3 separate regions of the Homo sapiens genome follow, and all the other regions are linked to region 2. Evidence: fine-mapped expression QTL. A gene starts in region 2. Each other region holds a variant in brackets. All regions are shown on one strand. Distances are from middle to middle. Region 1 overlaps CLMN (calmin). Region 2 holds the start of DICER1 (dicer 1, ribonuclease III). Region 3 has its middle 39 kb from the start of C14orf132.

Region 1 (8,000 bases), 30 kb before region 2:
CTGCCAAGACTCAGGTCCGTGGTGAGTCTCTGCATTGGTTCCTCCTCCCCTTGCTCTCCCCTTCAGAAAGCATGTACCAGGCAACCCTTATAAAATCACAAATGAGTCAGGAGGGGACTCAGTGAGCATCTTGTCTAGCTGGACCCAGAGAGACAGAGCAGCTTGACCAAGATCATATAGCCGACCAGGGGCAGACTTGCAGTGAGCACACAGGCACCTGATGCCCTGTCCAGAGCTGTCACCCCTTGTAGGAAACTTCCACTGGGCACACCAATGTCCTGAGAAAAAGATAAAATGACTAGATTAAAATGTCCACATTCAAGCAAAACCAAAAAGTTTAGACCAACTATCGACATTTGTTTTGTTCTTGTATTTTTCCCATGAGGAATTCTTACTCACCTTCAAGCTCATCCCCAATTCCTTCTGAAATACCCTTGACAGCTGCAACAGCTTGTCATTTGACATACCAGCGTCGCTCTTACTCCAGGAATCACGTTTCTTTCTTTGCTAGCCAAGGACTTGCTCATTTCAAGCAGTGGGTTTCAAGTTTACAGAATTCCAGCATGGCCAGAAGAATTTACATAGCACATCTGAGTCGATGACAGCCAAAATCTGGCCTCTAAACCAGTCTGATTATAGTCTGTCTCCCCTCCTGAAAGAATTTCAGCCTTCCAACCAGAAAGCTGCTGGGAGCTTGGAGTGATTCCATCTGGAAGGCCAAGAGCCCCATGGAAAATGAGCTAATTAATGAGCTCCCTGGCATCAATGAAAGCTCAAAGGTACAGATAATAAAGATTATGTGATAGTTTATAACTCTGGGCACCATGCAGTCCTTGCCTAAATTAGATGCTCGAAGAGCCTGGGAAGAGCCAACCCAAATGTGAATCATTTCATTTTATGGGTCTAGACCTTGTTCAGAAAAACCTCTGCAAGATACTTCTCTCACCTATTACAACTTGTAATATTGTTTAAAACATCTACTGGCAAGATGCCTGAAAGTCATTTGGTTCAGGTTGGCAGTCAACTGATATTTTGCAAAGGAAAAAAAAATCTCATTTGAGTATAGGCTTCTATGGAAGAAGCTGGATATAGAAAATGGATGTGGAAGTCTGCAGGACAAACCACCCCATTGCTTGTAAATTTTTTTTAAATTAAAAGAAATACAATAAGGCTTTTAACAAGAACTAGCAGTCCCCTAAGTCTCGCTGCTTAGAAGTAACCACTTTCAACTCTCTTATGTTTGCATTTCTACATAACGTGCTTACACTTTATTTTTTAATTTAGAAACATCTACTGGCTTGCTGTCACAGTAGAGGAGGATTTCACTCTTACCATACCGTGCTTTGGTTTTCCAGTATAGCTAGATCACATCATTTAGTACATTTCTATTAGGTGTTGACATTACCTGGAGCACTTAAGGATTGTTGACTCCCAAGCCCAGCAGTGTGTTATGGTTACATGTCCTTTCTCCTCCAAATGTCCCCATTAATTTGCTATTCTCTCTCTTTACTTTTTTTTTTTTTTTGGTGTGGCACATTCTTTAATAACTTCCTGAGGAAGAGAACATGGGAAGTAAATATGGTTGTAAATATTTTGAGATTTTTGCATGACTTAAGATGTCTGTATTCTGCCCTTAACAGAAATGTGGCTGAGCATAGAATGACAGGTGGAAAATAATACCCTCCCCTAGCCCCTCCCAAGCGTGCTGGTTGAGATTTCTGATGCCATTCTGATTCCCGTACCTTTATATGTGACTTAGGTTTTTTTATCCACCCTTCCTGGAAACATTTAAGATCTCTTTATTCTTGGTGTTCTGAACTGTCATGATGGTGTTGTATCCCGGGTGTTAAACCTTGTGCTGGGCCTTCATGGGAAATTTCTTAAATTTTCTTGTGATTATTTACATTCTTTCTTTCTGGACCACCTATTATTTCAATGTTGGACCCTCCCCTACACCCAGGCTGATGCTCTAATATTTTTTATCTTTTCTATTTTTCGTCTATGTTTCTGATCTGCTTTCAGGAAGAATTATTCATTTTTATCTTCCCAATCTGAATGTTTTATTGAATTTTTATTTTCCAAGTTAATAAAACCTTTGGTTATTATCCTGTCTTTGTTTTACAGTGTCCTGCTCTTGATGCGTGGATGCAGATTTTGTCTCTCTGTGGACGTTAATGATTGTGGTCTGAGGGGAAGTCTTTTCTGCTCCCTGTGTTGCCCTCATTTTCTCTGAGTTCTCTTTATTTTGGTGGTCTCAGTCTCTATCTTTCACGTTGTGAATTTTTCTCAAATATATGGTGATCCTATGGATCTGTTCATGTTTTAAGAGTGAGGCATCCAAAAGCTGATTGGAAGTTGTGTGTGCCAACTGGTGAGCTTTTCCACTAGGGTCACCAGGTGGGCACCTGGACTCATCATTGGAGAACACTGCCTGTCAGTATTTGCACGTGTTTTCTCTGGGGCTCATTCTGTTTCTTGAGAGATATTCCCACTACTCTCCTTCCTGGGAAACGGGCATACACAGGGCTTTTAGCCTATGCTGAGTACTCATGTGGTTTCAAAAATGGTGTCCCATCTGGGCAGAAGTCCCCATGAGCACTTGGCTTGACTGGCAAAGGACACCTTTTGCCCCTTCCTCCAGACATACCCAGCTCTGAGCTTGGACAATGCTCGAGGAACAATGAAAAGGCTAGATTTTAACTCCTAATTGCCCTCTTTAGCCAAGTGCCTCTGTGCAATGCACAACTGTAGGACCATATCCAGAGACCCTGGTCTATACTCAGTGTGCCCGAGTCCTGACCGCTGAGCAGGCAGCCTCATCACCCGTGAGTATTTAGACTTTCATTAAGTTGCTTCAACCTTTGCTGTGCCTGGTGTCCCTGAGTTGGAGCTGCTCTGATTTCTCCATGGAGTAGGAGCACAGTGGTCATCTGGCTGCATGGGAAGGACAGGGGACCTCAGAGCCAATAAATGCCCTGGTCTTCAGCCCCATGTCTCACCCCATCCCTCCTATTCCAATCCCCAAGCCTCTCCTGGAGGCCACAGGGCATCTCTGCTGACCACTCTGTGGCCTCCCCTCTGCAGGCATGTGGTTTTAGGATCCCCCTCCCTGCTCACTTTTCCATCAGTTCCATTCCTGCATAAATAGGTTGCTAGCTCTTGCTTACTGTTCTCTTCTGTATTCTGTGTTCATGGTTGTATTAATATAACTTTCATTCCTCTGCTCCTATTTTCATGGGGTTTCATGAGGGAAGAAACAGGCTCATGTGTTCAGTATACCATCTTGATCCATAAACCCCATTTGAGTTATCTCACAGGTTGCTTAGGGGGCTTGCTGCTCTGACTGGTTTGTGAACGTGCCCTGAGTCCAGCTGGGACTGCAGCAACATCCATCCTGTTGAGCTGTGGTCTGCTAAGTGATTTTGTGTAATGCTGTGCCAAGTGCAGGAGAGGGATACATAGCATGGCTAAGCTCTGCTTGAATGCCATGATTAGTTATTACCTTCCTTCCTTCCCCCTGGTTTTGCTGCCTATTGTCAGTAAATGATCTTAGATCTCCTGCCTCCCCAAAGATATAGTCTATGTGGTGGTCTGGGTTCTAGGTTTTCTTTACCACCCTTGCTTCACTTAAGAAACAGAAAACTGGCTAGGCACAGTAGTGGCTCACACCTATAATCCCAGCCCTTTGGGAGGCCAAGGCAGGAGGATCGCTTGAGGCCAGGAATTCAAGACCAGCCTGCACAACATAGCAAGACTCCATCTCTACAAAAAGTTAAATTTAAATTAGTGGTGGCATACACTTATAGTCCCAGCTACTCAGGAGGATGAGGCAGGAGAATTGTTTGAGCCCATGACTTTGAGGTTACTGTGAGCTATGATCCTGCTATTTTACTCCACCTGAGTGACAGAGCGAGACGCTGTCTCAAAAATAAAGAAACAAGTAGTCCACACAGGTGTTTGCCAGCAAACAAACAGCGCGGATTCTCTGTTGAACGTGGCCAACATTGCCTCGTCGAAGTTTGTATCTTGCCATAGTTGATGATCAGGTGGTCGGGGCTTCCTGGTCAGACCTGACCTTTGTGGGGAGATGTTCTCCCACCAAGGCTCAGAAGCAGGACACTCTTGCTGCCCCTCGGGCAGCCACCCAGAACATGGGCGTCTCCATTTCTGAGGTTCAGCATAGTTCCCCCCACCCTCTTCCCATGCAGTGCATGCCTGCTCTTTATCAGGATGGAACAGAGGGAAGGCAGAGGCACTGGGGGCAGCCTGTGTTGTTGATCTCTGTAAGTCACAGACTGTTCGAAAACCTCAGGAATTATGTAAGCGTTCAGTGCCTCATTTAAGAGATGAAAAACTGAAGATTAGAAAGAGGAAACGACTAGTCGCCCTGCTAGTTGATGACCTCCAGATAGCCATCTTCATTCCCAGTTAAGTTTACTACAAAACCACAGCCTCAGCTGCTGAAGCTAACCTCCCTACCCACCATCGCTAGGGACTCAGAACACCATGGAGCTCATCTCTCCAACAAAAGTCAGAATTAGCAAGTACAGATGTGTCTTACGAAAATGTCAGAATCCATCATGGCTGCTTTGGTGAGGAGCTGTTCTCCTTCCGTGGTCATGCCATTGGAAGGCAGTTGTATGACAAGAATGCTTTCACATGAGCTCCGATTTTCTTAACTCTCCAGAAGGACTTCAGAAGCCTCTGGAGTTTTGAGAC[A/G]CGGCCTCTCTCTCCCTTCTGCTTGGAGACACCTTCCTGGGGGTCTCCACTGCATTCCCCGCCGGTATTCCTCTGTGGAGCCTTGCGCCCTCAGGTCCCAGAAATGGGCTGTGTGGGAGCTTCCAGTCAGCCTGGTATCTCGGGACCTTCTCAGCCAGGAAATGAGACTGCACAAAGCCCTGTGAGGCCCAGCTGTGTTATTTCTCCTTCCCCGACATTGCATAATCACTGCTGACACAGCATTTGGGGAAGATTTAACGTCTTGGGCCAGCAGCTGCCATCTGGAACCATCACCACATAGCAGGTTGTTCTGTCCCATCCAACTGATGAGGGGGCTGCCCTAATGACAAGGTCCAGGACCTGGGTTGGGTGGTGGAAGGCTGGGAGCTGGAGTGGGCATTATTGTGCTTCTGTGCTGAAAATTGCTATGGCTCTTTTCCCCTAACAGCCAGCGTGGGAGAACCAAACATGAGACACAAGCATCCCCTTGAGCTCCACAGATCTTGCGCCTTGCTCTCATCAGGCATTTCCTTGGAAAACAGCAGTCAGCAGCTCATGGAAGTGAGCCCGGTGCACAGACTTTGCATGGACTTTGCACAGGTTCCATTTCCATCGTGTGCAGACACCTGTATCTTTGGGCTCCACGTGAGCACCTGCCCTCTTCACTCTGATTTTTTTTTTAAGAGACAGCATCTTACTCTGTCACCGAGGCTGGAGTACAGTGGTGTGATCACAGCTCACTGCAGCCTGAAACTCCTGGGCTCAGGCAATCCTCCTGCCTCAGCCTCCCAAGTAGCTGGTAGTACAGGTGCATGCCACCACGCCCACCTAATTTTTTTATCTTTTATAGATACAGGTCTCACTGTTGCTCAGGCTGGTCTCGAACTCCTGGCCTCAAGTGATCCTCCTGCCTTGGCCTACCAAAATGCTGGGATTATAGGCATGAACCACTGTGCCTGGCCTTCACTCTGATTTTTCTTAAGAGTCCTACAGGACCTTCAGGTCTTGTCACTTCTCTACCATTGTGTGTGAGACAGGGCATGGGGTGAGCTTGGTCAGGTGTGGGTCAAAAGCCTGGAGACTCAGAGCTGCTGGTTCCCCAAGAGCCCACAAAAGTTATCAGAGTTTCTGAGCTGAGTGTTCTGCAGTTGCCAGACCCCACAATGCTGGGAATACTGGCTTCTTTGTGTTTAGAACTTGTTCTGAGAACCTTGATGAGAACACATCAAGCAAGCAGTTCCTCCCAGCCAGGGCTGGAGCAACATGCCAAAAAACATTCTTGTCTATGGGAAAAAGACAACCAGTATTTTGTACTGTTTGACCAAGTTGTTTTTAAATATACACATGCCTCAACAATCCACGGCCTCAATCGCACTGCTAATTTGTTTAAATCCCTGACACTCAGATGTCAAGAATAGCTTCATCTAGCAGTGTTCTCTTTAAAGGAACCCTTTTTTTTGTTTTCATTTTAATCACTGCCTTCTTCTCTGGGAGGTATTGTGGGCTAGAGAAAGAAGTCAGGTTTGGGAGTCAGCCAGATTTAGATTGGAGTCCCAGCTCTGTCACCAGATCTCTGGGTGATCTTGGCAAACTAACTTCTGAGCTTCTGTGCATTATAGGCATTCAGCACATATTTGTTGGATGAAAAATACTTTTCTTGAAAGTTTATGAAGTTGTAGGATGCCCAGCAGCCCCCTTTTCTCTATTTCCTTCCTCTTGAAGCAAGCGTTGACTATACCTCTTTCCCTAACCCTTAGTGTACCATAGCTTCTTCCAACCTCTCTCCAATCCATTACTTTTTTCTGAGCTACCCTGTCTCAAATCTAACTCAGGCCTTTTTGCAAGAGGAAGTTTAAGCCATTGTTTACTCATTAACTCACTTGACCCTTAGAACAATCGTGGGAGGTGTTTATTTCGGAAAGGAAGCTAAAGCACAGGACAGAAAAATAAGGTCATAGCGTGAACTAGTAAGTAGCAGAACTGGGAACATAGGACTGTTATTTTCAAACACTCTAAACTTCACTGCAGTTGCAAATTTGCAACCAAAATGGCCGCCTTGAAAGGGTCTTTTGCAGTAAAATCTCAGTGTCCAACATCAAAGACAGTTCTTCAGGGCCTCCAATTAACTATACATCCTGCCCCCAGCTGCTCATCTCTGCACCTCTAACACGTACTTCACAGAGTAGGAAATTGGGCTTTCTCCTTCAAAAAGAAAAGTAGAGAAGGCCTGAGGGCAGTGTAATTAAAATGGAGAAGTAGAGACCACGAATTACTTGGATGAATTCATAACTGGTTGGTCTCTGAGGCAGGGATTATTATTTTTCCTGTATTTTAAGCTTAAAAGTAGTGATTTTTGCATTGTTACAAAAAACAAAATAGCAAAATATCATTTGATACTTGTATTCTGTTTGCAATAGCTACCACTTCCTTTAGCCCCAGCAAAAATCAATAGGTGTGTATTCTCTACAAGCCCATGCTGTGCCAGAATGCCAGTATTGCTAAATGTCATGCAAGGATTTAGACACTTTTTTAAAGGAAACTCTGGGAGTGCCTGTTGTCTGGAGAGTTGACATTGTCCAAAGCAGGCCAACACTGGTATGGGTATGGAGAACCCACGTCCTAGCTGTGGCTCACCTGCAGATGCCTTGAATTTACCTCTCTGGGTTGGAAGTGGGAAGACTTCTTTTAAAAGTCCTTTCTAAGTTTAAAAATCCAAAGGTTACGAAGGTAGTTTTTATTTATCTCAATAAGTGGCCTATTTGCTTAAAGCAAGTGTACCTCTGTATATCAGCCCAAAGCTTAGGGCAGTGCTTCTTGGCTTTAGTATCTGAGAAAGGTGCCTTTGGGAAGAGTTTGGTCAGACAGAAGGTAGTCTGAATCTTAAAGGTTTCAGATGAATGTTTGAAGTAGAACCTGGGAAATCTGCTTCCTAGGGCTGTTAGAAGGAAATTGGTCTCCTTAAATTACGTCAGCATCTGAGGCAGTTTCCTAAGGGAATTTCTTTTAAATTCAAAAGTTCAACTGCAGGAATAAATAGCTGTACAGGACTAGATCTTCCCATCCCTCATCTTTTCCCCTTCCCCGAGTAACGACTCAAAAAGGCTTCTGAAATTCTACTCAGAATCGGAGCCGTTTGCATTCCAACAAGGATCCCTTAAGCCAAATGCTGGTGTGTTTGTGTAGAATGTCCCTGGGGTAGGGGCGGTAGCTGTGGGGAGGGAATGTGGTGCAGGGGACACCTGCCCTCTGCCCTTGAAATTGCACCATAAGATGCTGCCTAT
Region 2 (10,648 bases):
AGACACCAACTGGGTGTCCTCCAATTCCCTTCTAACCTGGAGATAGCATCAGATCCCACAGGTTGAGGCTCACTCCCCAACACATCCCAACAACTGCCCCACTCTGTCCCTGGCCACTGACCAGTCCCAAGTCTGGGCCTCCAGAACTTCCGACAGGCTTCAAGTTGTGGTTGCCATGACCCCCTCTTGGGTTAGATTAATTTGCTAGAGCAGCTCACTGAACTCAAGCAAACACTTATGTTTACAAAAGATATTACAAACAATACAGATGAAAAGATAAATAGGATGAGGTGTGGGAGAAGGGGCTCAGACCTTTCATGCCTTCCCTGGGTGCACCACCCTCCCAGGAACCTCCTGGTGTTCAGCTATCTAGAAGCTCTCCAACCCTGTCCTCATGGGTTTTTATGCAGGCTTCATTACATAAGGGATGACTGATTAAACTATTGGCCACTGGTGATAACCTGACCTTCAACCCTTCTCTTCTCCAAGAAGTTGGTGATAGGCTGAAGGTCCAACCCTCTGATCCTGCCTTGGTCTTTCTGATGACCAACCCCATCCTAAAGCTACCTAGGGGCTCCCAGCCACGAGCCAACTCATTAGCATACAAAAGACATCACTTCGGTGTTTGTAAGAAATTTAGGAGTTGTACACCAGAAAATGAGGTCAAAGACCAAATATATATTTCAGAATCTCACAAAATATATAGATACACACTTTTACATTTATATTTATTTTTATATCTACATGTATTAAGAACCATGACTTTACATGAATATCTCCAATTCCAATCCAATCACACAAACTTCTTGCTTTTCTTATTTCTGTACTTGTAACTCCCTTCTCCAACAGGGAAAAATCTGGCTCCCATTAGCCTCAATATAGTTTTTCTTTGTGTAGTTCTCCTGTATGTAATCAGCTGTCTGGCCTTGCAGGGCTGCTGCCCCACCTTCCTTCTTTGGGCTCAGACTCCTCACTGAACTGACAGCCCAGTCCAATATGGGAGTGACTATATTCTCCCATGTAGATGGAAAAGCAGAGAGAACAAGTTAGCAGAGATACATAGAAAACAATCACAAGGGGCACAGAGAGTACCTTTTGGGTTCCTGGAAGCTTTTCAATGACTGGTTCTAGTTTTTGCTAAGATGTGGCTGTATTCCTGTTCTGGGCTTTTGTGAGAAGCACCTATATCATTATGGTAAATTCTCCCTTTTTGGTTGCGCTAGTTCAGCTTGGTTTCTGTTACTTGCAAACAGAGAGTCTTAAAGGTATATTTAAATCCTGGCTTGTTCTACAAAAAATAAACCAAATTGTGGAAATAATAGGGGCTAAGGGAAAATAAAAATTAGCCCATAGAAAATGCATGCCACATGGTACTATACCGTTGCTTAACACGGGCTGAAATATAGGCTTTAAGATTTCTAGTGATCCAAACAAAGTGTGAAACAATATCCCTTACAAGATTTTATGTCTCTGGATTTAAAACAAACCAGCAAGTGGAGCATGAATAGATAGACCATTAGAACGGATACAGAGTCCAGAAGTGAACTGCTCAATAAATGACTGTGTAGCCACCTGGACAAAAAAATTAATTTGGATCTATACCTCACCCTATATATTAAATCGATTCCAAATGGATCAACTTTTAATTCCAAAAGACTTAAAGTCTAAATGTCCATCAATAGAGAATTGGTAAATTATGGTATGGATATACCTGCAATAATATGTTAAGGGGGTTGAAAAAACAGCAAGGAGCTCTCTATGTGTTACTATAAACATGCCCCCCGGATACATTAAGTAAAAAACACAAGGTGGAGTAAATATGTATGGCATGCCGGCATTTTTCTAAACAAGGAACACAAAGGGCATATCTTGGCTCATATATACATAAACATTTTGAAGAATGAGCAGGAAACAGTGGTCACCTATTTGTGACACTAGGACAGGTGTGAGGGACATCTTTTTCCACTGTGTATCTTTTATAGGCTTTCTGATAAATGAATAATATGGATATACTATTTATTTTAAAAATAAAAACTGAAATTGATAAAAATCAGACAAACCGGCCAGGCGCAGTGGCTCATGCCTGTAATCCCACCACTTTGGGAAGCCGAGGCAGGTCAGGAGTTCGAGACCAGCCTGGCCAACATGGTGAAACCCCGTCTCTACTGAAAATACAAAAATTAGCCGGGCGTGGTGGCACATGCCTGTAACCCAGCTACTTGGGAGGCTGAGGCAGAAGAATCGCTTGAACCTAGGAGGCAGAGGTTGCAGTGAGACGAGATTGCGCCATTGCACTCCAGCCTGGGCGACAAGAGTGAAACTCTGCCTCAAAAAAGAAAAAAACAAATACATAAAATTAAAAAAATAAAAAAATCAGGTATACCTGCTGATGGAACAAGCAGCCTGGCTAGTCTTGACAGATTGCAAGAGGGCAACCAGAGGGGCTGAAGTTGTACCAGCCCACAAATTTCCACTGCCAATAGAGTCCAGTGCCTACCCCCATACTGAGATGCTGTCCTTCTCATAAAGGCTTATCAGGGAGTCCACCGAAGAGATATCTACATTTGGGGATAAGTTAAGACGATGTTCTTTAAGCCAGACACTTATTTAACGCCCACCGATATTTTAATTCCTAGCTACAAAGAAAACCTTATATGTATGACTGGGGTCTTAAAGGTATGACATGCTCACCGTGCTTGACATATAAGAAACTACTTTTTTAAATACATGGGTCTGCCAGGAGCATCCTACTTCCTAATTTTGCCCATAAATATGCTACTTTCAAGTGAAACCTTAAGCCAATTCATAGTAAATATATTATCAAAATTTTAGCACAGTAATGACTGAGCACACCAGCCTCAAAGCCAGACTACGTGGGTTCAAATCTCAGTTGTTCACTTACTGGCTACTTACTTGTTGGAAGTTATTCCATTTCTTCGTCTGTTAAAACAGGAAGCAGGCTGGGTACGGTGGCTCACGCCCGTAATCCCAGCACTTTGGGAGGCCAAGGCGGACGGATGACAAGGTCAGAAATCGAGACCATCATGGCCAACATGGTGAAACCCCGTCTCTTCTAAAAATACAAAAATTAGCTGGGTGTGGTGGCGTGCCCCTGTAATCCCAGCTACTCGGGAGGCTGAGGCAGGAGAATCACTTGAACCTGGGAGGCGGAGATTGCAGTAAGCCCAGGTCGCACCACTGCACTCCAGCCTGGAGACAGAGTGAGACTCCGTCTCAAAAGAAAAAAAAAAAAAAAACAGGAAGCAGTTTCAGCACCTACCTCACAATGTGCACACAGTTAAAGCACCTACCTCACAGGGTGCACACAGTTAAAGCACCTACCTCACAGGGTGCACCTAAGGATCACAGGCATGCAAGCCCTAGATCAGCCTGCCCAATGGCAATATAATGCAGGCCACAGGTGACATTTAAAATTCTGTAGAACCCACACTAAAAAATAAACAAATAAAACTTTTATCCCAATATATGGAAAAAGTTTATCACTTCAACATGTAACAATTTTTTGAACATTATTTGGTAAAGAATGCATATATCTCGATTCCGACTAGCCATACTTTAAGTGCTCAGGAGCCATGTGGGGCTGGTGGCCCCAAACTGAACAGCACAGCCCAGGCAGCAGGGGCGCATAGTAGGTTCTGCTCACGCCCATGGTCTGAAAGAAACACGGTTGCAGTTGCTGTGAGCACACCTCACCTGGAGCAAACCGGCCTATCAGGGGGTCCACTGAAGAGATGTCTACATTTGGGGATAAATTAAGAAGATGTTCTTTAAGCCAGCCACTTATTTAATTCCCACCGATATTTTAATTCCTAGCTTCAAGCTGTGGTGCGCGGTTCCGACCTATGCAAATGAACAGCTTACAAACAGAGGGCCACCATCTATTTCTCATTATCTGGGGATCCCGGTTGGGGTGGGGGGCGGAAGTGGGTGTTTGTTATTTCCCCAAATGCGGAGGCCCCTGCACCACTAACGCGAGGAAACGCAGGCGAGTGGGAAGGTACTTTAAAAAGGGGAGGGAGGTGCTCAGAGGGAAGCTAAGCTCTCCGGGAAACAATTACGGCCACGTTACGGTCTGTGGGTGCCAGAAGGAGCAACAATGGAGGCAGTCGAATTCCGAGAGCTCAGAGAGTCTGCCAAACTTAGCCGGCCTCGGCGCGCGGGTTCCCGGGGGCCCCAAAAACTCCGGGCAACTGCGGCCCAACGCCAAGGTCCAGTCCAGGCGCTGGGCCGCAAACGCCTCTCCGGCCTCCGCGCGCGCGCCCGCTGTCTCCCTGCTCCTGAGTGGCTGGGGGGCCGGGATTAACCTTTCACCGCCAGGCCCTGTCCAATCACAGGCTCGCTCTCATGCCGCCACGGGGCGAGCGGAGCGTGGGGGCGCGGAGGGGCGGTGCGGGAGCCAGTGGGATTCTCCAAGCGGCTGTGCGCCGTTGCCGCGGGCCGTGCGCTGGCTGCCGGCCAGCCGGGCGCTGCGCAGTCTCCGCAGGCGCCGGCGGGAGGGGTCGAGGCGGAGGCGCGGCGCAGGCTGCTGCAGGCCCAGGTGAATGGAGTAACCTGACAGCGGGGACGAGGCGACGGCGAGCGCGAGGAAATGGCGGCGGGGGCGGCGGCGCCGGGCGGCTCCGGGAGGCCTGGGCTGTGACGCGCGCGCCGGAGCGGGGTCCGATGGTTCTCGAAGGCCCGCGGCGCCCCGTGCTGCAGGTGAGGCGGGCTCCCGCGGAGCAGCTTTGTGTCCGGGGCGGGGAGCGGGTCGCCTGGCCGCGCTCCCGCCTCCGCGCGGAGGCCCGCGTGCCGGCCATGGCCCCGAGCCGCGCGTCCGGGCCTGGCGGGCGCTGACGAAGGGCGCGGCCTCGCCTGCCTCGTCGTCCCGCACAGCGCGGCCTGTGGACCCGGCGTCTGCCCGCCTCGGCTCTGCTCCTGGGCCCGGACCCCGGCGCCTCCCCGCGAGGCAGCCCTGGGAGACTTTCCGGGCCGCCGTGGCGTGGTGGGGGATGCCGGCGCCTGTCCACTCCCCGGCCTGGCGAGGCCTGGGGCTCTTGACAGGTCCCGTCACGCGCGCTAAGGTGGCGCGGGAGCAGCGGAGGTGGAGACGCGCGCCTGACCTGCCGGAGCACCCTGGGGCCCTCCTCTGATGGGGCCGCTGTGCCGCGCCCGGAGGGGACGAAGCTGGGCTCTCGGTCCCTCCCGGGAGGGTCCTGTGTGATTACTGTCAGGGGACCAGATTGGGGCCCTGGGGGGCGGGCAGGGGCCGAGGCCATTCTTTTGCCTCTCCCCTCAGATGTTTTTGTGCCAAAATGCCTAGACCCTGCGGAGGACCCTTTCTTCAGGGTTTTTGATTTTGGGGAAATCAGTGTATGTTTTAAGTTAGCACATCAGATTTCTGTAGATTGTCCAGAAAAGCTGAGTTGCCCTGATGGCTCTGCCTGGAGGTCAGAGCCAGCAAACCACTGAGTGTGTCCTTAGGAACCTGAAGATCCGCGGAAACGTGGAGATGAGTTGGAGGGTCCTATTTGTGTAGTGTTAACTCCGTGCTTTTGTGGAGAGAGTTGTGGTTAAAGGGACACGTTACTGGTCTACACGATAAGTAAGTGTTCTTAGGACTTTCAGGTTTTAAAAACATTCATCTGATGAAAGAGGATCACTTGGACGCCTATGCTTCTGTCTTCGAATATTCTGAATCTTTACAATCCTGATTGTCAGGTGTCTTCGTGGTGCTTGTTTTCAAACAGTGGAAAAGGACTCAGGTTAGGATTTAAGCAACTCGGAAAATATTGTTAAAAATGTGCTGTTAAAACAGGTTAGCTATATTGAATATGTATTGGTGTAAACGTTAAGTTTTCTAAATAAAAATATACATCCTCACCAAAAAACTCAGTTTATTAAAAGATGGGTTCGGGATAAGCCAGGTCCTAGAGAATAGTAATTTTCAATATTATTGATATCTTTGGAAATTAGGTTCTGGAATAGCCAGTTTATTTTGCAAAGTCTACTTTAAAGCTACCTGTGGCACGTGTGTATTATATGTAATATGTGCTGTGTACATGCACATACATACACAATTATTTCAAAACTTCATTTTAGGGCATATTCCATAAAACTCAATAGATAAAAAAACAAAAAACTAAAGATTGCTTTTAACATGGTCACTATAAACATTGATCATGGTAACATAGGTTTATAGATTTACTCACGGCACCAAAATGCTGTTTTAAGAAGAGAACAGTTAGTCCATTTTAATTTGGGGAGAAAAGACATTTTCCTACAATCCTTTTTAGTAAGGGCCTGCTTTACTTTTTATGCTTCCATCTCATGTTTGAAGGGTAAGCCCTGACTGCTCTGCTGTATTTTGCCCGTGGCTCAATGTGTGAGTTGGGTAGCTAGGTTGTTTTGCTATTATTGAGCTTTATTGTCTTGGTTTTAGAAGACATTGTCTTTTGATGTGGCTCATGATTCTTATTTGACAGTGATTTTGTCATATAGTGGGTTGTACAGTACTTGTAGTGCTATCTTCTAGAGAGGGTGACTTTTATGGCGTTGGGATGTTTTATTCTCTACCACTATCTGACATGTGAGGTGCTTGTTTCATTTGAGAAAGTAGATATTTCGTAGACAGTCTCTCACTTGCGACCCTACCATGTCATGGTCACGTTTCCACTTGCTCATGGCAAAGGAGATAAGGGAAACGTGTTATTGAGTGCCTCCTTGTTATGCGCCAAGATGTTTCAGGTTCTACGTACATTCTCTTCTAATCCTCACTGTGACCCTGCGATCAACTCGATATTGTCCTTGTTTTATAGGCAAGGAAACTAAGAGTCAGTGATTATTACCCCAAGTTAGGAATCTCGAAGTGGCAGAGCCGAGATCGAATTGTGGTTTGGTTTCAGAATCTTTGGAGGCATGCTTTTTGTATTGCATTACTGTTCCAAATGGATTTCAGGGCTGCATCACGTGTAGTGACTCCTCAGTTAAGACTTGTGGAATGAATGAAGCTGTGTCTAACCTTAAATGTTCAGGTGAATGAATGGTTATTTGAATATTTCAGATAGTTGTTTTTTTTTTTTTTTGGCATGGTAAAATATACATAACACAACGTTGAACCATTTTAAGTGTACAACTAGCTGGCATACAGTACATTTACATTGTTTTTAGTCATTACCAGCATCCATCTCCATACTTTTTCATCTTTCCCAACTCAAACTGTCCTCATTAACACTAACTCCTGATTCCATCCTACCTTCAATGCCAGAGAACCACCATTCTACTTCCTGTCACTGACTACTGGAGAAACCTCAAAATAAGTAGAGTCATACAGTATTTGTTCTTTTGTGTCTGGCTTATTTTACCCAGCATAGTGTCTCCACGGCTCATCTGTGATGATTTAGATGTCAGAATTCCCTTCCTTGGAAAAGCTGAATGGTATTTCATTGTATGAATATACTGCATTTTGTTTATCCATTCATCTGTCCATGGCCACTTGGGTAGCTTCTATCTTTTGGCTACTGTGAATAATGGTGCTGTGAACGTAGGTATACAAATAATTCATTGGAGTCCATGCTTTCCCTTCTTTTAGACATATACCTCAAAGTGGTCACATTGTTTCTTGATCTTCAAAACACTAGACTAGACTCAGAATTTATTGCAGTATGAGTTTTCTCAGGGTTCCTCCAAGCAGTGATAATTTCCTACAAACAACTCCTCTGTCAGTAAAATCTGTAATCTCTCTGAAGCCCAGGGTCGACTCCTTTTTACGATCTTGGTTCCAATCATAGTGTCTGGCAGGTATTCAAAAAACTGATCAAACATGGAGTGATGTGCTTTATTGAATGCCAGAGGAAGATATTGGTGAGGTCTTTAATTTGTATAAAGAGAAAGTTGGAGCCAAGTGACTTATTTTGTTTACCTTTTGCTGTGCTTTTTGGACATTCAAGAGCTTAGTTCATCCTGAAAGCCCAGTGTATGTATTATACTCGCTCTTATTCACAGGTTTCTTTGCAATTTACGACTTGCCAAATGACTAGTCTTCTGAGGCAGCATTATTTTCTTGGTATTCCACCTCCTTAGCCTGTGGGGCTTGGACCTTTTGATTTTTTGATGGCTAGTTTTCACTTCTTCCAAATTTCTGCTAAGACTCTAGTATTAGTACATTTATTTAATAGTTTATGATGTCTATTTTGAGAAAGGATTTGAAATGGTCTTATAATAGGAAAGTATTAGAGTACTATGAAAATGGTAAAGGTTGGTAGTATAGAATGTGGAGGCAGAGAATTAGATGAATGATTGGGGCAAGGAAAGGTGAGTGCTGCATGTAACTCACGTTGATTAATGAAAGGAAGCATACCAATTTGAAGCAGATTTTTCTCTTGTATGAAGAATAATCAATCTTTTGGATTATTACATTAAATAACATTAGCAATATATGGAGAAAATGTTTTACATTTTACAAACGATAGAGAAACATTTTTTCACATGCCATTTTAGAGAAACTGGATAAAAGCCTCAGGCATAATAGAAAAGCTTTAGTAATACAGGTGTTCACTGTTCCAGTGGTTTGATTCATTAATTTCTTTTGGGTGGTGTCCCTCGAATATCAGTTGTCTCATTCAGGCTGTTGACAGATGCTAAATAACAATCCATTCAGGAATAAGCTCTGTGGACAACATGGGCAGTGAGGATTTTCCAAATAGGAATTCTCACCCAGTCTTTTTTTTTTTTTTGAGACGGAGTCTCACTACGTTGCCCAGGCTGGAGTGCAGTGGTGCGATCTCAGCTCACGGCAAGCTCCGCCTCCTGGGCTCATGCCATTCTCCTGCCTCAGCCTCCCGAGTAGCTGGGACTACAGGTGCCCGCCACCACACCCTGCTAATTTTTTGTATTTTTAGTAGAGATGAGGTTTCACCGTGTTTAGCCAGGATGGTCTTGATCTCCTGACCTCGTGATCCTCCCGTCTCGGCCTCCCAAAGTGCTGGGATTACAGGTGTGAGCCACCGTGCCCAGCCCTCTCACCCAGTCTTTAGGAACGTGTGTTGGTCTAAAAAGTAAGACTGGTTGTATCGTGGTGTATACTTGATGAATTAATACAGAAAGAAAAAGATTATTTTTGAGATGTAGCTGGTGAAATTGACATTTTCAGTTATGTAATAAAGCCTTTGTTAAAATAATTCTGAGTGCAAAATGGCTTCCTCATCTAAAATTGTCAATGAATTGTTGGTACTCCTTTAACATGCAGTTACCTCAATATGCATTTTAAATAAGTGACTAAGAAGATGCTACAAAACATTCTCTGAGGATGTCAGTAAGACTGTTACTAGAAGTAAGACATGACAGGCTTAAGTTTGGCCTTAGAGTTTTTTCTTTTTGTTTTTTAGGCTTATAACAGCATTACATGTTCTTGGTTGTGTTAAGGTTTATGGAATAGTAAGGATTAGATTCTTCATGCATGTTCATTACCAGACATGGTGCTTGACATATAGGAGACACTCCGATTTGTTGAGTGAGTAAGTTAATTTATAATACTTTTTGAAGTATTTAGAAGCTAACACAGTTTTGTGGGGAAGAATATTGCTTGCATATTAAGGCTTTTAAAAAGATTATTACTATTCTGCTTTTGGACAAATCATGCTACTTGGTCCTTTTTGCTTTGTGAGGTACGTATGATTATGTGCACAGAAACATTGCAGACTGAGGGAAGTGTTAAGAATCGTGGGAGAAAATCGCCGTCAAAATTGGAGTTTAACTGTATTGCAGACTTTCTCCTTGTTGGCACAGACTAACTCTGTTGTGCTTGTTCGTTCTTTGACAGCTCAATGTATGCCATAAAGCAGGGGTTTTAACAACACATTTGAACAATTCTTGAGGATTAGAAAATGAGGTCTGTTAACCAGTTCAGAATTTTAAGAAAACAAACCGGTTGTACTTAGAGAACTTGAATAATGAGAGAAGACTCTTAGTTTAAAAACTGATCTTTGACATGATGTAGGAAGGTTCTTTGATTAAGAAGTTAAATGACCCTGTTTGAAGGGAAAAAGAAAGGTAGTAGTCGTATTTAGTCGTATTTAGTCCTCTGAGATGTTTCGAGATTGCAGGATTTCTGTCTTTCCTCTTTTGGTAACATCCTGGGAGGTGAGATTAACATGATGAACTCACAGCCTGTCCGCCTCTTATGCATCCTGCTGCCCAGCCATCACTGTCAGTTGCTCTGATTCATGGTATTTTAAGTTCTTTCCACTTTGCAGAGTTAAATATTAATGTTTTATCATAGCTTTGTAGGGATGCTTAAGAGCAAGTGTTTGGCGTCAGAGAGACCAGGGTTCAAATCCTGATTCTTCGACTTTATAGCCGATGAGCACTGGGCATATGGCAACGTCTCTTGAGTCTCAGCTTCCTTGTCTATAAACTGTCGTAGTGGTGTTTGCCTCTTGAGGTTTTGAGAAAAAAAAGGAGTTTCTTAAACTCTCATGGTACATAACTAGCATTTGATAAAATTAATGTAATATTTTTCTTTTAAATACGTGTATTAGAGAAAATTTTAACATGCAATAGTCTTAATGTGATTAGATTATATTGTGAGCCCCCAAATTATCAATATTGAAATGTATGGTCTAGTAATATAATGGAGGATGAAGGAAAAGAG
Region 3 (10,648 bases), 840 kb before region 2:
TTCCTCTCTTCCGATTTGAATACCTTTTATTTCTACCTTTTGCCTGATTGCCCTGGCCAGAACTTCCAATACTAGGTTGAATAGGTTGAGAGAGGGGGCGTCCTTGTCTTCTGCCGATTTCCAGAGGAAATTCTTCCAGCTTTTGCTCATTTGGTATGATATTGGTTGTGGTTTTGTCATAAGTGGCTCTTATTATTTTGAAATATGATCCATCAATGCCTAGTTTATTGAGAGTTTTTAACATAAAGGGATGTTGAATTTCATCGAAGATCTTTTCTGCATCTATTGAGATGATCATGTGATTTTTGTCATTAGTTCTGTTTATGCGATGAATTACATTTATTGATTTGTGTATGTTGAATGAGGCTTGCATCCCAGGGATGAAGCTGACTTGATTGTGGTGAATAAGCTTTTTGATGTGCTGCTGGACTCAGTTTGCCAGTGTTTTATTGAGGATTTTTGCATCAATGTTTATCAGGGATATTGACCTGAAGTTTTCTTCTTTTGCTGTGTCTCTGCCAGGTTTGGGGATCAGGATGACGCTGGCCTTATAAAATGAATTAGGGAGAAGTCCCTCCTTTTCAATTGCTTAGAATAGTTTCAAAAGGAATGGTACCAGCTCTTCTTTGTACCTCTGGTAGAATTCAGCTGTGAATCCATCTGGTCCCGGGCTTTTTTTAGTTGGTAGGCTATTTATTACTGCCTCAACTTGAGGACTGGTTATTGGTCTATTCAAGGATTCAACTTATTTCTGATTTAGTCTTGGGAAGGTGTATGCATCCAGGAATTTATCCATTTCTTCTAGATTTTCTAGTTTATTTGGGTAGAGGTGTTTATAGTATTCTTGGATGGTAGTTTGTATTTCTGCAGGGTCAATGGTGATATCCCCTTTATCATTTTTTATTGTGTCTATTTGATTCTTCTCTCTTTTCTTCTTTATTAGTCTAGCTAGCCATCTATTTTATTATTTTTTTCAAAAAACAAGCTCCTGGATTCATTGAGTTTTTGAATGATTTTTCCTGTCTCTATCTCCTTCAGTTCTGCTCTGATCTTAGTTATTTCTTGTCTCCTGCTAGCTTTGGGATTTGTTTGCTCTTGCTTCTCTAGTTGTTTTAGTTGTGATGTTAGGGTGTCGATCTGAGATCTTTCTAGCTTTCTGATGTGGGCATTTAGTGCTATAAATTTCCCTCTTAACACTGGTTTAGCTGCTTCCCAGATACTCTGGTACATTTTCTCTTTGTTCTCATTGGTTTCAAAGAACTTCTTGAAGTCTGCTTTAATCTCATTATTTACCCAGGAGTCATTCAGGAGCAGGTTGTTCAATTTCCATGTAGTTGTGTGGTTTTGAGTGGGTTTCATAATCTTGAGTTCTAATTTGATTGCACTGTGTTCTGTGATACTGTTTATTATGATTTTTGTTCTTTTGCATTTGCTGAGGAGTGTTTTACTTTGAATTATGTGATCGATTTTACAGTAAGTGCCATGTAGCAGTGAGAAGAATGTATATTCTGTTGTTTTGGGGTGGAGAGTTCTGTAGATATCTATCAGGTTCACTTATCCAAAGCTGAGTTCAAGTCATGAATATCCTTAATTTTCTCTCTCAATGATCTGTCTAATATATCGACAGTGAGGTGTTAAAGTCTCCCACTATTATTGTGTGGGAGTTTAAGTCTCTTTGTAGGTCTCTAAGAACTTGTTTTATCAATCTGGATACTCCTGTATTAGGTTCATATATATTTAGGATAGTTGGTTCTTCATGTTGAATTGATCTCTTTTCCATTATGTAATGCCCTTTTTGTCTTTTTTGATCCTTGTTTGTTTAAAGTCTGTTTTGTCAGAAACTAGGATTGCAACCTCTGCTTTTTTCTGCTTTCCATTTACTTGGTAAATTTTCCTCCATCCCTTTATTTTGAGCCTATGAGTGTCTTTGCACATGAGATGGGTCTCTTGAATACAGCACACCAATTGGTCTTGACTCTTTATCCAATTTGCCAATCTGTGTCTTTCAGTTGGGGCATTTAGCCCATTTACATTTAAGGTTAATATTGTTATGTGTGAATTTGATCCTGTCATCATGATGCTAGCTGGTTATTTTGCACACTAGTGGATGCAGTTTCTTCATAGTGTCATTGGTCTTAGTATTTCAGTGTGTTTTTGCAGTGGCTGGTACCAGTTCTTCCTTTCCATATTTATTGCTTCCTTCAGGAGCTCTTGCAAGACAGGCCTTATGGTGACAAGTTCCCTCAGCATTTGCTTGTCTGAAAAGTATTTTATTTCTCCTTTGCTTATGAAGCTTAGTTTGGCTGGATATGAAATTCTGGGTTGAAAATTATTTTCTTTAAGAATTTTGAATATTGACCCCACTCTTTTCTGGTTTGTAGGGTTTCTGCTGAGAGGTCCACCGCTTCCTTTTGTAGGTGATCCAGCCTTTCTCTCTGGCTGCCCTTAACATTTTTTTCCTGCATTTCAACCTTGGAGAATCTGATAATTTTGTGTCTTGGAGTTAATCTTCTCATGGAGTATCTTACTGGGGTTCTCTATATTTCCTGAATTTGAATATTGGCCTGTCTTGCTAGGTTGGGGAAGTTCTCCTGGATGATATCCTGAAGTGTGTTTCCAACTTGGTTGCATTATCCCCATCTCTTTCAGGTACTCCAATCAGTCGTAGGTTTAGTCTTTTTACATAGTCCCATTGTTTTGGGAAGTTTTGTTCATTTCTTTTCATTCTTTTTTCTCTAATTTTTCCTGCCTCCCTTAATTCAGCAGCATAGTCTTCAAGCTCTGATATTCTTTGTTTGACTTGATTGATTCAGCTACTGATACTTATATTTGGATCATAAATTTCTTGTGCTGTGTTTTTCAACTCCATCAGGTCATTTATGTTCCTCTCTAAGCTGGTTATTCTAGTTAACAGCTCCTGTAACCTCTTGTCATGGGTCTTAGCTTCTTTGCATTGGGTTAGAATATGCTCCTTTATCTCAGTGAATTTTGTTACTACCCACCTTCTGAAGGCTACTTCTGTCAATTTGTCCATCTCATTCCCCGTCCAGTTCTGTGCCCCTGCTGGAGAGCTGTTGCAATCATTTGGAGAAGAGGCACCCTGGCCTTTTGAGTTTTCAGCATTTTATTGTTGATTCTTCCTCATCTTCATGAGATTGTCTAGCTTCAATCTTTGAGGCTGCTGACCTTTGGACGAGTTTTCTGTGGGGACTTTTTTGTTGAAGCTCTTGTTGTTGTTTTCTGCTTGCTTGTTTTTATTTCAACAGTCAGATCCCTCTTCTGTAGGGCTGCTGCAGTTTGCTGAGGCCTTATTCATCTGGGTCCTTCCCCCACCTGGAGATGTCACTGGAGGAAGCTGGAGAACAGCAAAGATGGGTGCCTGCTCCTTCTACTGGGATCTCTGACTTCAAGGGGCACTGACCTGATGGCAGTAGGAGTGCTCCTGTATAGGGTGTCTGGCGACCCCTGTTGGGAGCTCTCACCCAACTGGGGGGCATGGGAATCAGGACCCATTTAATGAAGCACTTTGGCTGTCTCTTGGTGGAGGGGGTGTGCTGCACTAAGGGGAAACCCACTAATCTGGGCTGCCCAGATTCCTCAGAGCTAGCAAGCAGAGAGACTAAGTCTGCGGGTCAACAGAGACCATGGCCACCCCTCCCCATAGGGGCTCAGGTCCAGGGAGATCAGAGTTTTGCCCCTAAGCCCCTGGCTGGAGTTACTGGAGTTCCTACAGGGAGGCCCCACCCAGTGAGGTGGGATGAGTCAGGGTCCAGCCTAAAGAGGCAGTCTGGCCATAGTCTGTCATAGCTGGTGTGCTATGCTGTGGGGAATACCTCTCGGGACCAAGCCATGCAGTCTCCCTGGCTCTAGCAGGGGAGAAATGCAGCCTGGAGCTATAGTGATGGCTGCTGCCGTCCCCCCTCCCCAGGAGTTCAGTGTCTTAGGCAGCTAGCAGCCGGAGTGATGTCTGCCGTCTCTTCCCTGGGGAGCTCAACTTTCTTAGCCAGCTGGCAGCCACAGTGATGATGGCTGCCCCTTTCTCAGGAATCTCAGTTGTCTTAGGCAGCTGGCAGCTGGTAACCACAGTGATGGTTGCTGCCCCTCCCCTAGGGAGCTCAGATGACTTAGACAACAGGCAGGCACAGTGATGATGGCTGCCCCTCCTGCTGGGAACTCTGTAGTCTTAAGCAGATTTCAGCTGAGAGGCTGTTGAGAATCTGTGTGGCTCTGTGGTTGGGACCCAAGGCCCTGGTGGCGTAGGCTCATGAGTGGAAACTTCTGATCTGTGGGTTGCACAGATCTGTGGAAAAAGCACAATTTCTCAGGCTGGGTAGCACACTCACTCACCGCCTCCTTTGGCTGGGCATGGGGGTGCTCCCCTTGTCCCGTGTGGCTCTCAGGTAGGCTGATGCACCATCCTGCTTCTCTTTGCTCTCCGTGGGTCATGCCAACCACCTAGTTAGTCCTGATGATAGAACCTGAATATCTTGGTTGCAGGTGTAGGATTTGCATGCTGTTTTGTTTCTTCTCGGTGGGAGCCTCCGACCATTGCTGCTTCTAGTCAGCCATCTTGACCCCACCCCCTGATTGATTTTTAAATGTTGACCTTTAATCCTATGACCTTGTGAAAATTAGTAGTTCTGGTAGCTTTTTGGGTAGATTCTTTGGGATTTTCTACATAGAAACTCACATTGTCTGCAAGTAGAGACATTTATTTATTACATTATTAAACTAGCTAGGAACTCCAGTATGATGTTAAATAAGCATGGTGAGGAGGGGCATCCCAGCCTTGTTGTTGATCTTTGGGGAAAATATTTAGCCTTCTATTTTAAGTATGATATTAACTGTGGCTTTTTTTTTTTTTTGGTACGTATCCTTTCTTGAGTTAAGAAAGTTTCTTTCTATTCAATATTTTTTAAGACTTGTTGAATTGTATTAAATTATTTTTTTCTGCATCTATAGAGAGGGTTACATGGTTTTTCATTTTTAGTCTGTTGATGTGATTAATTACATTGATTGATTTTTGGATGTTGAAATGGCCTGAACTTCCTGCAAAAGATCCCACTTAGTAATAATGTATTACCATATACGTACATATATATGGCACAATTTGCTAATATTTTTGCTGAAGAATTTTTTGTATCTGTATCCGTGAGTGATATTCTTCTCTAGGTGTGTGTGTGTGTGTGTGTGTGTGTGTGTGTGTGTGTGTGTGTGTGTTGAATTTCTTTGGATGGTTTTGGTACCTGTGTAATGCTGGCCTCAGAAAATGAGCTGGGAAGTCTTTCCTCCTCTTCTACATTCTGGAAGAGTTTGTGTGTAATTCATATTTCTTCCTTGAATGTTTGGTAGAATTCACCAATGAAGTCATATCTAGCATATGGGCTGCTCTTAAAGAGTGGTTTTTTTAGTCAATATCTGCTTCACCCTTGACTTTAAGTTTTCCTTTGTGCCATGCCTGGAGAGACAGAGAGAGAAAGAGAGAAAGAGTCTCTCTTCATGCTCTTGTCTCTTTCCCAGCTGGAAACTGCTGTTATTTGTTACTTGACGCTGTTGTAGCCTGTTGACAGGATGTGCTACAGAGTTTGCAGGTGAAAAATAAAAATGAAGGGCTCCTTGCTCAGAAAGTATTAAAACTGTCAGGATGGCAATAGTAGAGTATTAAACCAAATGCAGGACCCTTCTAAGCATGGGCTGTGTGATCACACAAGTCATTGGCCATGAAGTCATTTCTGCCTCTAAAGAGAGGCAGAGCTGGGGCATCCTCTCCTGTTCTGGCTAAGCCTCAGTTTTAGAGGCAAGAACTGTGTCCCTGGGTCTTGGAGATGGGGCCTTCTCAGCAGTATCGCACACTTCCAACTGTGGGTCTGGTCAGGGGACAGTGATCTTGCACCTTCTGCAAAGGTAGAATGTATTTTTATGTTCCTTCTCCCAGCTAGAATGGGTTTCCATCAATGTGCTAAGTGTGACAGAGTGTGTATTGTCTTTCCCCAGGGGTATAAGCCATTTGTTCTGTAGGAGACATAGAAAAAAGGATCCAGGTAGGGTTTAATGTTTTTCTCACAGTGACTACTGTGCCTTTCTCCTGGGTCAGCACCATCAGTGATGCCTCTCAGCACTCATGCTCTGACCCCATCTTTCTTGTAATCATCTAGCTTGGAGAACAGCTAGCTAGCAGCTACATATTCCCCTTGTGCTTGTGATTCCCAGTAGTTCTATATCCTCTCACCTGTCTGTATTTGTCCTTTAGCAATTTGTTAGCATTTTTAGCTGATTTTTCTTACCA[G/A]TGTCTGGTGAGATTTACCACAGGTAAGCAAGGGCTCACCTCCCCTTTCTTCTTGGGGGATCCTGTATTTCCTTAGATTTCACATTAGTTGGTTGCCCTGTGACCTCAGTTCTTTAACAGGTGCAAGATTTACAGGTTGTCCAGCATATTTGTTGTTGTAAAGATGGAAGCGATTTTTTTTTCCATTTGCCTATCTCCTAAGTGGAGAATGGAAGTCTATGAGTATTTTTTAAAACTGTATTATGGCAGATTGCAGTATAATGAACCCCATCACCCAGCTACAACAATAATCAATCAAAGACCTCATTAGTTTCATCCACTCTAATGGATTATTTTGCAAAAACAAATTCTGCTCATCATGAAATTTTAAACATAGTATGTAATTATAAGATATATTTTAAGACAATAAGTATATCACAACAGTGAAATAATGATTCTATGTGAACTCATTTTTGTTTAAATAAATATCTACATGTTTGCAAGTGCATGGACAAACATCTGGAAAGAGATACACCAAACTGAGAGAAACATTTGTATATGTGGGCATGTGGTGGGATTAGGTGAGGGTCAGGGTGACATGTGTTTATCTGCAATGTCTTTATTAATGATGAGAATGTATTTTTGTATTATTGGTGTGATTTTAAAAGTGTGAAAAAGAAAAAGTAAAAAAAGTAAAAGAAATGAAAGAAATGCAGTTAGACTTTGGAATCTGACATGAATTTGAACGCCAGCTCCACTTTGGGCCACATGTGTGACAATGGACAAGTCACATCACGGTGGGGGAGGAAAGGAAGTGGAGAGAATTTGGAAAGGAGATGGGGAGGACAGATAAGAATCCCTTACAGGATTACTTGTGCTAAAGGATTAACCAACTCTCTCCATGTAAACTTTCTGGCATACAGTAGGCACTCAATAAATGTGAGGATCCTCATTTCTTTTGGCATCTCCACTCAATGTAGAATTATGAGCAGGCACGCACTCATGGAGGAATATTAAATCCTAATGATAATGAGCTTCTTCTGCCCCTGTGTGGTGTGTTCAAGTTATTGCTAGGATTTCTCTCACTCATAGAAAAACCAAAATGAATATTATTTATTTTCCCCTTAAGTTGGAATTCACCTTTTTTACCTCTTGACCCCCAAATCTGATTCTGCAGTATCTTGTCTAGGTTTCTATTACTGTCCAGTGCTTACAATATCTCTGTCTCCCTCATCAGCTTGTAAACCTTTTGAGGGCAGGGACCTGTTTTACTCTCTGTCTCCTTTCTCTCTCTCTCTGTCTCTTTCTCTCTCATAACAATTTCAAGCCTTCAGGGCTGGTGTGAGGATTAAATTGCGTCAAGTCTGCGAAAACATTTTGTAAACTACAAAATGCTTTCCAGATCTACTCATTTGTTTATTCACAAACTTTTGTTACAATGCCTATTGGCTGCACATTGCACAATGTGAAGGGCTCACCTCACTCTCTTGTGGCCACATAGGACGTTGGAGAGAGCAATTGTCAAAATCTACAGAAAGACTATGGTTGGCACTGGACAAAGTGCTGTAGGAGCCTAGAGAAGGAAGGGTTAGCTTTTGCTAGGGACAGGGGCAAGCAAACAGTTGACATGGAAAGAAGATTTGAGCTACAGGTTGGGATCTCAGTAGCAGCTCCTGATGTGGAGAAGGGGGATGCTAGAAGGACTCTCATCAACAAGGCGGCATGTGAGAGGCAGACAACACATTCTGGGACCACCCCAGGGTCCTGTGTGGCTGCACTTTAAGCATCATTGTAGATGTGACTGGAGGAAAGTATCGAACCTTAGGTTGAACAAGAACACAAAGGACTTTGAATGCTCTACTGAAGAAGCTACACATAAATCACTCAAGCTTAGCCCAGTGCCTTCCAGAGGGCAGACATTCAACAATTACCTGGGACATTGAGTTAAATGGATGCAATAGATAGAATCTTTATTGCTTCTATTTTGAATTGTCTATTTTCTTTTACTTAAAGGGAGGTGATTTCAAAGTCTCAGCCTCACCAAGTCTATTTTAACAACAGCATTTCTCCAAACACTTTCACTATGCCAACATGTGACATTTATATTCATTATGAAGAAAAGTCTCCTATCTTGACAACTAATGATTTTTCTTGGAAGGTGATCCTTAAAAATATATGGCATTTTCTCAGGATGTAAAAATCAATGTTCTAAAATCACTAGCATTCCTATACACCAACAACAGTCAAACTTAGAGCCAAATCAGGAAAAAACTCTCATTCAAAATTGCCACACAAAAATAAAATACCTAGGAATACAGCTAACCAGAGTGGTGAAAGATATCTACAAGGAGACCTATAAAACACTGCTCAAAGAAATCAGAGATGACACTAACAAATGGAAAAAATATTCCATGCTCATGGATAGAAAGAATCAATATCGTTAAAATGGCCATACCGCCCAGAGAAATTTATAGATTCAATGCTATTCCTATTAAACTACCATTGACATTCGTCACAGAACTAGAAAAAAAAACTGTTTTAAAATTCATATAGAACTAAAAAGGAGCCCAAAAAGTCAAGGCAATCCTAAGCAGAAAGAACAAAGCTGGAGGCATCATAGTACCCAACTTCAAATTATATTACAGGGTTACAGTAATTAAAACAGCATAGTACTGGTACAAAAACAGATGCATAGACCAGTGGAACAGAATAGAGATCCAGAAATAAGACCACACACTCACAACTATCTGATCTTCAACAAACCTGACAAAAACAAGCAATGGGGAAAGGATTCCCTATTCAATAAATGGTGCTGGGAGAACTGGCTAGCCATATGCAGAAGATTGAAACTAAACACCTTCCTTACACCATATACAAAAATCAACTCGAGATGGATTAAAGACTTAAATGTAAAACCCAAAACCATAAAAACTCTGGAAGACAACCTAGGCAATACCATTCTGGACATAGGAGCAGGCAAAGAGTTCATGACAAAGACCCAGAAGCAATTGCAACAGAAGCAAAAATTGACACATGGGATGTAATTAAACTGAAGAGCTTCTCCACAGAAAAGGAAACTATCAACAGAGTAAAAAGACAGTCTACAGAATGGGAGAAAAATTTTGCAAACTATGCATCTGACAAAGGTCTAATATCTAGCATCTATAAGGAACTTAAACAAATTTACAAGAAAAAAAAAACCCCATTAAAAAGTGGGCCAAGGACATGAACAGAACAGACCCTTTTCAAAAGAAGACATACATGTGGCCAACAGTCATATGGAAAAAAATCAATATTACTGTTCATTAGAGAAATGCAAATCAACACCACAATGAGATACCATCTCACACCAGCCAGAATGGCTACTATTAAAAAATTAAAAAATAGCAGATGCTGGTGAGTTTGCAGAGAAAAAGGAATACTTATACACTGTTGGTGGGAGTGTAAGTTAGTTCAACAATTGTGTAATACAGGCTATTCCTCAAAGACCTAGAAATAGAAATACCATTTGACTCAGCAATCCCATTACTGGGTATATACCCAAAGGAATATAAATCATTCTATTATAAAGATACATACACACATATGCTCATTGCAGCACCATGAAATCAACTCAAATGCCCATCAATGATACACTAGATAAAGAAAATGTGCTACATATACACCACGGAATACTATGCAGCCATAAAAAGGAATTAGATCATGTCCTTTACAGGGGCATGGATAGAGCTGGAAGCCATTATCTTCAGCAAACTAACACAGGAACAGAAAACCAAACAGTGCATGTTCTCACTTATAAGTGGGAGCTAAATGATGAGAACACATGAACGCATAGAGGGGAACAACACACACTTGGGACTATTGGAGGAAGGAGGTAGGAGGAGAGAGAGGATCAGGAGAAATAACTAATGGGTATTAGGCTTAATAGCTGGGTGATTAAATAATCTGTTAAAAAAAAAAACCATGGCAAAAGTTTACCTATGTAACAAACCTGCATGTGTAGCCCTGAACTTAAAATAAAAGTTAAATAAAGAATAATTTTAAAAGAGTATATGGCTTTTTTAGAGGCTTGCCCATGTACACGTTTGGGGATACAAAAGATTCAGTAACCATATCTAGATTTCAGAACATCTACAAGTGGAGCTAAATGATTTTTTGCTAGAAGATAAATTTTTCTTGAAAGAACTTGACTGTCATTTCAGCAGTTGACAGCTAGCATTCATTAAAGATGCTACCTTCAGGCTTTTAAGGAAAAGGAAGAAAATGAAATCTAACTGGTTGGAATGGAGGGTAAACATAAATTAGAGTATAAAGTTTTAAAGTTCTTAAGAATACACTTAGAGAAACTAAAATTAGTAGAAAAGGAAACAAGGAATTTGACTA

Evidence for each region. PIP is the estimated chance that this variant, and not a neighbour inherited with it, causes the effect.
Region 1: its variant is fine-mapped to the expression of DICER1 in whole blood (TOPMed, PIP above 0.99).
Region 3: its variant is fine-mapped to the expression of DICER1 in sun-exposed skin (GTEx, PIP 0.96).

The regions. Positions count from the first base shown.
Region 1 is chr14:95,182,508-95,190,507 of GRCh38, reverse strand. It overlaps CLMN (calmin), which reads left to right. Exons shown (of 13, transcript NM_024734.4): 13 at 1-8,000. Among named protein-coding and RNA genes, the nearest start is that of DICER1-AS1, 29 kb to the right of the region's middle. The variant A/G (reference allele first, on the strand shown) is at 4,720.
Region 2 is chr14:95,151,301-95,161,948 of GRCh38, reverse strand. DICER1 (dicer 1, ribonuclease III) reads left to right here and starts at 4,420. Exons shown (of 27, transcript NM_177438.3): 1 at 4,420-4,719. It overlaps DICER1-AS1 (DICER1 antisense RNA 1), which reads right to left and starts at 4,261. Exons shown (of 4, transcript NR_015415.1): 1 at 4,091-4,261; 2 at 3,715-3,756; 3 at 2,914-3,073. RefSeq lists enhancers at 3,950-4,019, 4,060-4,159 and silencers at 4,250-4,709, 4,770-5,129.
Region 3 is chr14:95,995,492-96,006,139 of GRCh38, reverse strand. No RefSeq gene overlaps it. Among named protein-coding and RNA genes, the nearest start is that of C14orf132, 39 kb to the left of the region's middle. RefSeq lists an enhancer at 4,083-4,584. The variant G/A (reference allele first, on the strand shown) is at 6,287.